Linked DNA regions of Homo sapiens. The protein of the gene in region 1 interacts with the protein of each later gene in a biochemical or structural test. Each region holds a gene or a part of one and is shown on either strand. Other genes may lie near its edges.

The links.
Region 2: the proteins of UBE3A (region 1) and ACTBL2 form a complex in vitro, tested with the Homo sapiens proteins (2 studies listed by BioGRID).

What each region holds. Positions count from the first base shown.
Region 1 is NC_000015.10:25,333,202-25,338,031, reverse strand, and holds the end of UBE3A (ubiquitin-protein ligase E3A), read left to right. Parts: 3' UTR 1-4,304; downstream 4,305-4,830. UniProt on the Homo sapiens protein: E3 ubiquitin-protein ligase which accepts ubiquitin from an E2 ubiquitin-conjugating enzyme in the form of a thioester and transfers it to its substrates.
Region 2 is NC_000005.10:57,479,812-57,487,422, reverse strand, and holds ACTBL2 (beta-actin-like protein 2), read left to right. Parts: upstream 1-4,611; 5' UTR 4,612-4,715; coding exon 4,716-5,846; 3' UTR 5,847-7,405; downstream 7,406-7,611. UniProt on the Homo sapiens protein: Actins are highly conserved proteins that are involved in various types of cell motility and are ubiquitously expressed in all eukaryotic cells.

The DNA of each region.
Region 1 (4,830 bases):
TTAATCATACAGTAAGCTGACCTGGAAATGAATGAAACTATTACTCCTAAGAATTACATTGTATAGCCCCACAGATTAAATTTAATTAATTAATTCAAAACATGTTAAACGTTACTTTCATGTACTATGGAAAAGTACAAGTAGGTTTACATTACTGATTTCCAGAAGTAAGTAGTTTCCCCTTTCCTAGTCTTCTGTGTATGTGATGTTGTTAATTTCTTTTATTGCATTATAAAATAAAAGGATTATGTATTTTTAACTAAGGTGAGACATTGATATATCCTTTTGCTACAAGCTATAGCTAATGTGCTGAGCTTGTGCCTTGGTGATTGATTGATTGATTGACTGATTGTTTTAACTGATTACTGTAGATCAACCTGATGATTTGTTTGTTTGAAATTGGCAGGAAAAATGCAGCTTTCAAATCATTGGGGGGAGAAAAAGGATGTCTTTCAGGATTATTTTAATTAATTTTTTTCATAATTGAGACAGAACTGTTTGTTATGTACCATAATGCTAAATAAAACTGTGGCACTTTTCACCATAATTTAATTTAGTGGAAAAAGAAGACAATGCTTTCCATATTGTGATAAGGTAACATGGGGTTTTTCTGGGCCAGCCTTTAGAACACTGTTAGGGTACATACGCTACCTTGATGAAAGGGACCTTCGTGCAACTGTAGTCATCTTAAAGGCTTCTCATCCACTGTGCTTCTTAATGTGTAATTAAAGTGAGGAGAAATTAAATACTCTGAGGGCGTTTTATATAATAAATTCGTGAAGAAATGTGTGCTCTTCAGTTCTCAAGTTTTATTATTATGGTATTTATTAAAGTTCTACAATTGTAATAACGTATCCATATGACAAGTTTTAAAGTGGTAATTGAAATAGGTTATCAGATATAGAGTTGTTCACATCAAGTAGACTTTTAACAGAGTCAGAATGAACCTACCCTTAAAATTTTAGAGAAAAAAAATCGTCGGTTGCACAGAATAGCTGCTCTAGCTTGCTTAATTATGCCGGGCATGTTGTCACTCCTCTTACTTTTGCTGCCTTTTCATTACTATTTAATGGAATGTCCCTGAACAATAAGGAAGAGCAAAACATAGACATTTTGACTACAGTGGATACTTCCTCTACCCCAAATGTTATGTTATAAAAGTACTTTTTTTGCCCAGGTACTCTATTATATATTTTGGTTTTCTTTGAATTAGACCTCAATCTCCAGGAAGCTCTGGAGGGAAAAAAAGGAACCATAAACTAAAGTAACTGGTTTTCCAAATAAATGTAAACTTTTTTAACCTTTTATTATTATAGAACATTTCAAACATACATAAAACATGAAAACAGCCTGCAGCCAAACTTTTCTGGACCTTGGCAGCTCCAGCAAATGAGCTGGTCATCCTAACCCTGGTTTCCTGAGACAACTACTTTTGGGGATGCTTGCTTGTATAGGGAGATGATAGATAGATAGATACATATCAAAAAGAAACTTGAAAAAGGCTTCGAACAGAACTTGCCGATGTTACTCATCCCTCCTCGGTACAGACATTCTGTTAGAACAGATGGTTGTAATGGGGCAGCATCACTCCCTATTCCCATTAAAAACATGACCATTCTGAGATTTCAGGCCCCTTCGAGGAATTTTTCTCAAGAATTCCATACAAACTGTCAGAGGAAGAAATGTCGTCCCAAGACTAGTCCCTGTGTAGTCTTGATCCCTTTACCTGCTTACTGTAATTTTTTTTCTCTGACTTTCCGCCAGTGTCTAAGGGCCATCTGTACCCCTCCCACCCTTCCATGAGCCACTGTATAATCCAAAAACACACCTTCCATTTGCTCCCTCACTTGTCTCCTTTTACCTCAACAGTGTTAGTGTGTAAAGAATTGCCTGGGGAGGGTAGAGGGTTTTACAAGTACAGAGTCCCAAGTCTTTTCTCCCCTCCCCGTTAGTGGGTTGGCATTTATTAATAGGCACTGCAAGATTTTGATGCAGGTGTGGGGTAGATATCACTGTGAAAGGCTACTAATGCATGGTAGTTTCACCGAAAGTACAGTCTTCAAGGATCCTTATAATCTCCTCATTGCCAAAATCAGTAACATCTATAACCTTGACAACACCCTAGCTTGGGCTGTTGCTTCTCTGGCTACTTGTTTTTCCATCCCAGTTTACCCAGATTTTAGATGGATACTCCTCCAATTCTGCTTAAAGTCCTTACCTGTTCTTGCCCAGTTCCCTCTAGTCAACCTCAGTCACTCCCAAAGATTCTTCCCCAATCCCATATCTTTTGCTCAGACCTCTGTCTCTGGGATTTCTTTGTTACCTCATAGTCAGTAGTCCTAAAAACAAAATTCTTCATCTTGCATCTCTATCGACCGACCATTCTTTGTTTCTTTTTAAGAAATGTAACCTTCACCCCAATCATCAAAATCTCTCATTCCTCAATTGTCACAGGTTGTCACTTCTTTCCCCCTAAACCTCTCCCATCATTCCTTCCTTCTTTATACTGCCCTTACAGGTCCTGATCCTCTGACTCACCCGGACATTCTTAGCAGCTGCCTAATTTCACTCCCTGACTCTCATCTCCCTCTTCCAATCCTTTTCATTGTGCTAGAACACTATCTTGCTAATTTTAATATCCTCTGCATTCAGTGCCTCCACAGATTGCCCCCTCACTGACCTTTCCAATTTGGCCTTGTGTTACACACTTTCCTCGCTGCATTCCTACCCAGCATCTTCACTTGTCATATTTCTCAAATACTCTTCATGACCAGATATTTAAAGTACCTCATCCATGAAGACTTCATCAACCCCCAAAGTGCCTCCAATGCTTCCGTGGTAGCACAGCATAATGGGGTACATTTCTTAGTTGAACAGTGAGGAGTCACTGGGATTCTTACAGAGTGTCTTAGGGTCTCCTCTTGATACTCTTTCCACATTTCAGTTAAGGAATTTTCTTACATCTTTTTTTCTTCTAATAACCTTTGCCTGGAGTGTAAGTAAATTCATGATAGAGACTGTCATTTTTAAAAAAAAAAACAAACCATTTTGCCTTTCACATGTTATTACCTCCATCTTTCTGTTATCTTGTCAGTGTTGCCACCTAAATGATTGAAAATGACCGAGCATGCAGTAGAATGTAGTGAAGTTTCCTATTTCATCCATTTTTTGCATAAGTGCATTGGTATCTGTATATCCATCTGCCCAAGCACCAGTTGTTGAAAAGACTATTATTTCCCCATGAATGGTCCTGGTACCCTTGTCAAAGAACAGTTGACCATAAATATAAGACTTTCTGGATTCTCAGTCTTACTCCATTGCCCTATATGTCTGTCGTTATACCAGCACCGCACTGTCTTGATGGCTGTAGCTTGGTAGTAAGTTTAGATTTGGGATGTGCAAGTCCTCCATTTTTTTTTTTTTTTTCCCCAAAATCATTTTGTCTGTTTTGGGTCCCTTGCATTGCATATGAATTTTTATATGATCATTGTGTCAATTCCTGCAAAACAGCTGGGATCTTGATAGGGATTTAGTTGAATTGGTAGATAAATTTGAGAAATAACTGCTATTTTAATGGTGTTAGGTTTTCTGTTCCATGACTGTGGGATGTCTTTGCATTTGCTTAGGTCTTTATTTCAGTGATGTTTTAGAGATTTCAGTGTGCAAGTCTTGACGTCTTTAATTTTTTTCTAAGTATTTTACTGATGCCACTTTAATTATATGATTATTTTCTAATTTTTATTTTTGTATTCATCACTGGTGTTAGAAATAAAATTAATTTTTGTATATTGATTTTGTATATTGTAGCTTTTCTAAAATTCTTTTTTTGTCACTTAGTATTTTTTGCATATGAGATCATGCATCTGTGAACAGAAATACTTTTACTTCTTCCTTTCCAGTCTAGATTCCTATTATTTCATTTTCTTGCCTTAGTGTGCTGGCTAGCACCTCCAGTACAATATTGGATAGAAGTGACAAGAGCAGACATCTTTTTCTTGTTCCTGATTTTAAGGGGAAAGCATTCAGTCTTTCACCATTGAGTATGATGTTAGCTAGCTGTGGGTTTGCTTCAAGTTGAGGAAATTCTTTTATTAAACCTAGTTTACTGAGTGTTTTTTAATCAAAAAAAAAAAAAGGAGGGGCTGTGGGTTTTGTTAAATGCTTCTTCTGTATCAAGATTTTCATGTTGTTTTGTCCTTTATTAATATGTTGTATTAATGGACTTTTGTATATTGAATTAACTTTGCATTCCTGGGATAATCTCAGTTGTCCATGCTACATAAACCTTGTTCTATGCTGCTGGATTTGGTTTGCTAGTATTTTGTTTAGAATGTTTGCATCTATATTCATAAGGAATATTGGTCTGTAGTTTTCATATTATATATCTGTCCAGTTTGGGGATGAGAGTCATACTCCTGACAGAATGAATTGGGAGCTTTCCCTGTTCTTAAACCTACTGAGGTATTTTTTAAGTGAACTACTTGGAGACCTTCACCTGTGATCTTCAGATGCTGGGGGACACAGGGATGGTACCTGACTCTGAAAAGGCTCTCAGGGTAAGACGTGTCTGAACTGGCCTGTGGCAGTTAACTAAAGAGTACTCCTACCAATAATGGAGTCAAGATGTATGTTTCCCATAGGCCACGCTGGTCACTGAAAGAGATGGGCTATGAGCCATCTTGAAAACTACCCTGCACAAATGGACTGCCGGCCTGGAGCCAGGCACCCTGCAGCTGAGTGCCATATAATGTTGAAGCTGTTGAGGGAGGAGAGGTTGGAAGCTGCCAGCTTAGAGAATCTCAGCTGTGGTTTCCAGCAGGGTGTATTCCA
Region 2 (7,611 bases), on another chromosome or scaffold:
TAAGGGATTTAGCGTAGAGACTGGCACATACTACATGATCCGTAATCACTATTTTTATTGTTATCCCCTTCACCTTTCAGGATCAGAACACAACATGATGCTTATCTGTGTTGGATGATATATGGTTCCCATCAGTAACGGCTGAACTGTGAATATTGATGCTTCCGATTTTACAACTGTTTCTTCTCCCCTTTCCTTAGAATCAAGGCATTTCCAAAGGTTCATCCACCACACACAGGAATCTGTTCTTCCTCTTAACAACTTTGTTTACAGGTCAATTGAAATAGCCAAAAGCTGATCTATGGCATATTTTAAAAGTTAGTTAGGAAGAAGTGCCATAAAATCTACGTTAGGCCCTTTATCCATCGGGGGGAGCGCTATTGCCCTGTGGAGTGAAAGCTGGTTTTGTTCACAGACAGTGGGCTCACACCAGATAGGGGCTGGGAGCTGTGGTCAACTGCACCAATGAAAAGATTCTTATGCTAATATTTTCCTTCCAAATGCATCCTGGAACTGGTCAAGACGTACCTCACCAAAGCCACTTTTTCCTCCTTTCTGCCCATGCCTGCCTCAGGAAATAGGTGAGTCAGGTTTTACTTGAGGAAGTGTTTGTTGTATTTCTGATTTTTCATGCCATTTTTTACATAGTTCTATATATTCAAACAAACAGAAAATCACAATAAGCTCTATCAGTAATTATTATTGGTGGATTTACTATTTGTAAGAAATATTAAAGCCATATGTTGAGACTTCTCCAGAGAGAAGTAACGGTAATTATCTTTACCATTTTATCTCTCTTTTCCAGAGAGATAAACATGGTATCTTACAAACTGCAAATAATCTCCAGAGAGATTATTTGGTATCGTAAGATACCATGTTTAAGCCATTTCATCAATATGAAATATAAACCTTAGGCAGTATTTAACCACAAAATAAATAAGCTTTTTAACTTTTAAGAAGTGGTCAGCTATATCTAGCTATGAATGAACAGATGAGTATATAATGAAAACAAATCACACTGCTTACAACATTCATGTATCTATTTCTGAAACACATTACAAATCTCCACTAAGAGCAGAGTACAGTTGAAAGAGATTCTCAGAGCATCACCACACTAGAGAGGTAGACGTGTGCAAAATCAGCCAAGGATAGAAGGAAAGAGGGTGTGGTACACAAGGAAGGAACCAAGTGAAGACAGAGAGGCAGGCAGCTGACCTCCATGTACTAAATTGCATCCCTAGGGGGGAGGCTGAACGAGGCCTCATTAAAATGCATAATCTCAGCAGTTCAGTTAAACAGATGAGAGCCTAGACAGGAGATGATCACTAAGACAGGGCCTCCATGACCCATGGGTAAGAGCCTCTTCTTAGATCTCATGTACTACGGAGAGAAAGCAACACCCAATTCTGGAGTTCCTCTTCCTTCCACATGCCTGTGAAGATTCAGACTCTTGTTGTAAGCCTCTAAACTCTTGCTGATTCTGTGTAGAGACCTAGTTCCAAATACATAGTTGATTCTCTGATTTCATCCAAGTTGTTGGTGCTGCTGTAATACTGCCTCCGTTGGCTGCTGGCAGCCTCCTAGTTCCAAACACATAATTGATTCTCTGGTTTCATCCAAGCTGTGATGCTCATGCCTGCAATATTACCTCCACTGGCCAGTGACAGCCTCCTGCCCATCCTCTGAGACTCAGCCCAGGGGTCATCTCCTTTGGCCTCTCCTTCTCTTTGCCCTGACCTCAGGTTCAGGGGCCCCTCATTCCACCTCTATGTCTCCCTGAGCTCCTTCTCTCATCTCCCGTGTTGTATACCTGTTATCTGTGTATTTGGGAGTGACATTCAAGATCTTTAACAACTGGAACAGCGCTGGCAGAGCCCTATCAGAACATAAGCCGGCTGTATCATACCAGTGCCAAACGGCCACCTGTCGGCCTGGGGTAAGGTGACTTTCACCCACAAGACAGTGAACTCTTTAAAAATAGGGCTGTGTTTTATTCATTGATATATCACCAGTGCCCAGAACATAGGAGATGTTTAATAAATGTTTGCGGATTGCTTGAAAAGTCTAAGGTTGACAAAGACAAGGCAAGGAGACACGGTAGCTTCCACCAGTTGTCTTCATATTTAATGCCCATACTTAAACCTCACTCTAGTTTCGTGTATCTGCATGATAGTCAAACTAGGCAAAATGTAAAAGAAAAAGAATATTCTGGGCTTCCATGAGTGAACCTTGAAGGGCCCTAAAGGTTTAGGTAATTAATTAAACATTTGTAAATTCTGGTCAGTTACAAAGTCTGTTACCTCCAAGAACAGTACTCCCTACTCACAGCTTCCAGAGCCCAGTATTTGTAAACCCATCTTTCTATGTTTTACTCAACACAAATTCTTACTACTTTTTAAAAATTTAACCAACTCAACAGATGACATTTTTAATGGCTGTTGAATTGTGATAAGCACCTCTTGCATTATTGAGAGTTAATTAGAAGAGCATAAGCTTATTTTAAGAATACATAACTGATGAAATTTGCTCCTGGGACACCGGAATTAAAGCAGGCTAGACAGTCTCTAGCAAAATCACACATCAGCCACACTCTCAAGGCATCAGTTATGCTGTGTGGACTCAGTACCAAATATCCCTTAGTTGAAGGTGATTCTAAGGACAGCACTCTAGTAAGTGTAGGATCTAAGGCTGCACTTGGTACTATGTGGGCTCCTCCACTAACATTTCCACCAACTTGGCTTTGTTTTATATTCCAGACCGGAGCATTCATAAATGGGGACTTGTGCTAAATACAATGTGTATTTCATTTTTTCCATTTTGTAAAATGTGCATGTAGTTTGTTATGGGATTTTAAAAAATTCCCAGAAGCACCATCCTATAGCAATAAAATGTTGTTTTAATCAAAAGCTTGGTTGTACTACATAACAAGGAAGTTCATAAAACCATTCAGTGTGAAGGTTTTTAACACTGTTGAAGAAGGAATTTTGCAGTTACAGAAAAGATTAAAGGAAAGGACTGTTTTGGTGAGCCCTAAAGCAAAACCATGGATCTTGTGATGAAACATACATTCTGCCATGACTGATTGTCACCAGAAAGGTTTTGAAGGCATATTACAGCACTGGATAAAATAAATCTATATCAAGCTATAGACAAAGAAGAGGGCTGGATGCTCACAGCTTGATGCTACACCATGACTCTCCAAGAGGCTCACTGGGCAAAGACTCAGGTTAGTTCTCCTGGCCTTGAGCTGGAGGGTGTTTTTTGTCCAGTAAATAGGGGCTGTGCTACCTCTTACAAAGCAAGCTTTATTGGGTAAATGAATGAATGATGAACCCAAATAAAGATTATTTTGGAGAACTCAGATGTAGACATGGAAAATTTCTTTGCTTTACAAGAGCTCACAAAGATAATTATATTCTATTCGCCTAACACATAGGGGAGCAGAAGTAATGAGCTTTCTTAAATGCTATTTCTCTGTAACACATTGCTGATGTCCTACATTTTACCATCATACACATCTTTTCAGGTAGTCTGTATTTCTATATGAAACATGGAACCCAAACAAATTGTTGCTATGAAGTGATCAGGGTGTAATATATCTTGAAATGGAAGGAAAGCTAGTATAATTCTAATTGTATAGATTTTAATAACTACATAGAGGTTTAATGTTATAATATAGTATATGTATCTTGAAGATCAAAATGTTTTAAGGATTAGTTTAAATATATAATTTTTCAAATTTGTCTTATCACTTCATTTTGTCCATTGTTGCAGAACTCAAGAGTTGTTGCAAATAAATAAATTTTTATAACCTGCATCTTAATAAATCATGCAAAATAGTTGACATTCAGTCATTATACAATTAACATGGACCCAATGAACCTGGTTCTATGAACAATGTCTAGACACAGTAAATGTTTAATGAAATTTGGTTGTTAGAAATTTATATCAGAAAAAAGTATCTATATGGGTTAACTTTAGCAATCATTCTATTCCTTTCGCTTGATCTCTGATGGATTAGAAGTCTATTAAATATCTCTACATTTTGCTTGACACAAGTGCATTGTAATTACAGCCATCAGGCCATCCTTAGCCATTTATTATTTTCATTTACTAAAACAGTCTCTACGATGATGACACCCTGTGGGATTAGGAATCTAATGGAAACAAAAATCTTGAAAAAGTGAAGATTGCAGGGTAAGACCCCTCATCAGAACAGTATCTTAAGAATGAAAAGGTAAGCTAGTGTAGGAAAAGTGAATCCTCAGGGACGCTAAGGAGGGAGCCTTCCTCCCAGCAGTGTTGCCATACCTAGCACCAGCTTTCTTTCATCTTGCTTTTATATCCCCCACTGCATCATCATAGTTATCTAGAGACCTCACCAGGCAGGCTGACGGTCATGTGTGGGTTGCCTAATTACAGGAACCTGAGATTTGACCACTTGGCAGCCAATTTTCTCTTTATGTAGAAAGATCTAATTGTTTATGTAATCATCACCATCATTAATACCTCAGAGATGACCTCATCCAGAAATGCTGGGAACTGGTGGAGTAGGACATGGGCGGAGTCAGTGTGTTCCTTTAAATACCTGTGGTCCCGGTGCAGCCTCCCGTGTCTGAAAGCATTTCTGGAGTGTTTTAGGCCTGTTCACTTTCTCTTACTCACTGTCTATTCACTTGTCCTGTTCACTCGTCTGGAAGATCTCAGCCAGCACCATGACTGACAATGAGCTGTCTGCCTTGGTAGTGGATAATGGGTCAGGGATGTGCAAGGCAGGCTTTGGTGGTGACGATGCCCCCCGGGCTGTGTTCCCCTCCATGATAGGGCGTCCTCGACACCAGGGCGTTATGGTAGGCATGGGCCAGAAGGACTGCTACGTGGGAGATGAGGCTCAGAGCAAGAGAGGCGTCCTGACCCTGAAGTATCCTATCGAGCATGGAGTGGTCACCAACTGGGACGATATGGAAAAGATCTGGTACCACACATTCTACAATGAGCTCCGTGTGGCACCAGATGAGCATCCCATCCTCCTCACCGAGGCACCCCTGAACCCCAAGATCAACCGGGAAAAGATGACTCAGATCATGTTCGAGGCTTTCAACACACCAGCCATGTATGTCGCCATCCAGGCTGTGCTGTCCCTCTATGCCTCAGGACGGACCACAGGCATCGTGATGGATTCTGGGGATGGGGTCACTCACATCGTGCCCATCTATGAAGGTTATGCCCTGCCTCATGCCATTCTACGCCTGGATCTGGCAGGGAGAGACCTGACTGATTACCTCATGAAGATCCTGACAGAGCGAGGCTATAACTTCACCACCACTGCTGAGCGGGAGATTGTGCGAGATGTCAAAGAGAAGCTGTGCTACGTAGCCCTGGACTTTGAGCAGGAGATGGTCAGGGCAGCCGCATCCTCCTCACCGGAACGGAGCTATGAACTTCCTGATGGGCAGGTGATCACCATTGGGAATGAACGCTTCCGATGCCCTGAAGCCATTTTCCAGCCTTCCTTTCTGGGCATTGAGTCCAGTGGGATCCATGAGACAACCTTCAACTCTATCATGAAGTGCGATGTGGATATTCGCAAGGATCTCTATGCCAACACCGTGTTATCTGGAGGGAGCACCATGTACCCAGGCATTGCTGACAGGATGCAGAAAGAAATCATAACCCTGGCACCCAGCACCATGAAAATCAAGATCATAGCTCCCCCAGAGCGGAAGTATTCTGTTTGGATTGGGGGCTCCATCCTTGCCAGCCTGTCCACATTCCAGCAGATGTGGATCAGTAAGCAGGAATATGATGAGGCTGGTCCTCCTATCGTTCACAGAAAATGTTTCTGAATGGGCTTCCATATTAGTGGGCTTACATTTTCCCTTTTCCTAGGTCACAGTGATGGTACTGCTTTTATCCGCTTTCAGTAGAATCGAGGTAAATACGTCACTCTTCCTAGTGTAAACCAGCAAACCCATCTCTCCATCCAAGTAACCTGGGCTCTTACCCAGATAACCACATCCGGTTCTCCATCAAGTGAAGGTGAATTCTAATACCATATTCCTTTTTCTTTGCCTATACTGTTCAAAGATAGGTAGGCCAGCTTAAATACATATAAGTGACAAGGAGTAAAATCACGAGAAATGTCATTTCAGAATGGATAACTATAATTATCAAGCTTTAAAACTTAGTTCTCGCTAAAATATTTAACAAGAACAGGCTGTATAAACTTGTTTAAAAAAAAAAGGTGCGTATGCATTTAGCAGCCGTGTCTTACTAGTTAAGTATCTTTGTTTTGTTTACTTCTTTGTATGGAGATAATGAATTATAAAGTTCAATAATATCCATATATACATAAGCACCAGGGAAATAAAATATATTGTGAAATATGCTGATGTATCTAGCTATCTGAACAGCTAATGTGAATTTCTTTACTCCCAAAAGTCATCGTTGTACTAGGTACATATTTTAATTGTTTCCCTTACTAAATAAGCATAATGAGACAGCCACCATTCCATTAATGTTTATAAATCATCTAAATTTTCAGCTCATAGTGGAGTTCTGCTGGTCAAATTATATTTTAATATCTTTCTTACTGAACCTTCTCATACCAAAACTACAGACAATGTCTAATTCTTAAGAGAGATAGATATTATAATATCAAATTAATGTCATTATGGTACAATTTGACAGAGGTAATTTTATTTCTATTTCTTAGTGTAATAGCACATCTTAAATAATTTCTGTAGACCAGGATTACAGATACTTCTCTTGTGCAAGGATTTCACTGTGGGAAAATATAGCTGCAGCATCTTTATTAATTATACATTTTACTACCAGTATACTAACACAGTTTTATCCTTGGAAAGCTTTTAGAATAATTCTACTTTATTATGTCCAGTAACTAGCAATACTTATTTATGCAAAGTGTCTCTGAGATACTAACATCTTTGAAAATATCAATGTATGTTCCTATAATGTCTAAAATATTTTAGTTACTCCAGTGATGATTTATTAACCAATTTTAAGTACCAGTATGTTTATTCCAATCTATGCAGTGATTTCTGAATATTTGGATATCAGCATTATTTGTATTTTTCAGGGTAATTTCTGAAAATTTAAAATATTTATTTGGATTGCTTATTCAGGCATTATAAGGTACTCTGGAGGAAGGAATCACTTCTCTTTTTTTCTTAGTTGGGAAACTTGTACTTATGTTATAAATCTTTAAAATGGAATCAGTAAGAATTTTTTGTTTAAGGTAATACTTTTCAAATAATTTGATTATTCCTTATTGGCTTTATCTGACAACATAATCTTTAAAATGCATGTAACCAAAATTAATCTCCAAAAACACTTTATTTTATATAACTTGCTTTCAGTACATTAAAATTGCTTCATACTTGTATACTTAGATTTCCTGTTATTTCTCCTCAACCATTCCCTTAGAATTAGAGAATGATCCAGATAGCATCTCTTTTTATATGTGTGACCTATTCATCTGTATGTTACAATTTTGCACCTCATACATTTAATCATGTAAACATTAAAAGGCAAATTTTAAAAAAAGGATAGCTAGCCATTTAACATTATATAGATGTCTCATAATCTAAA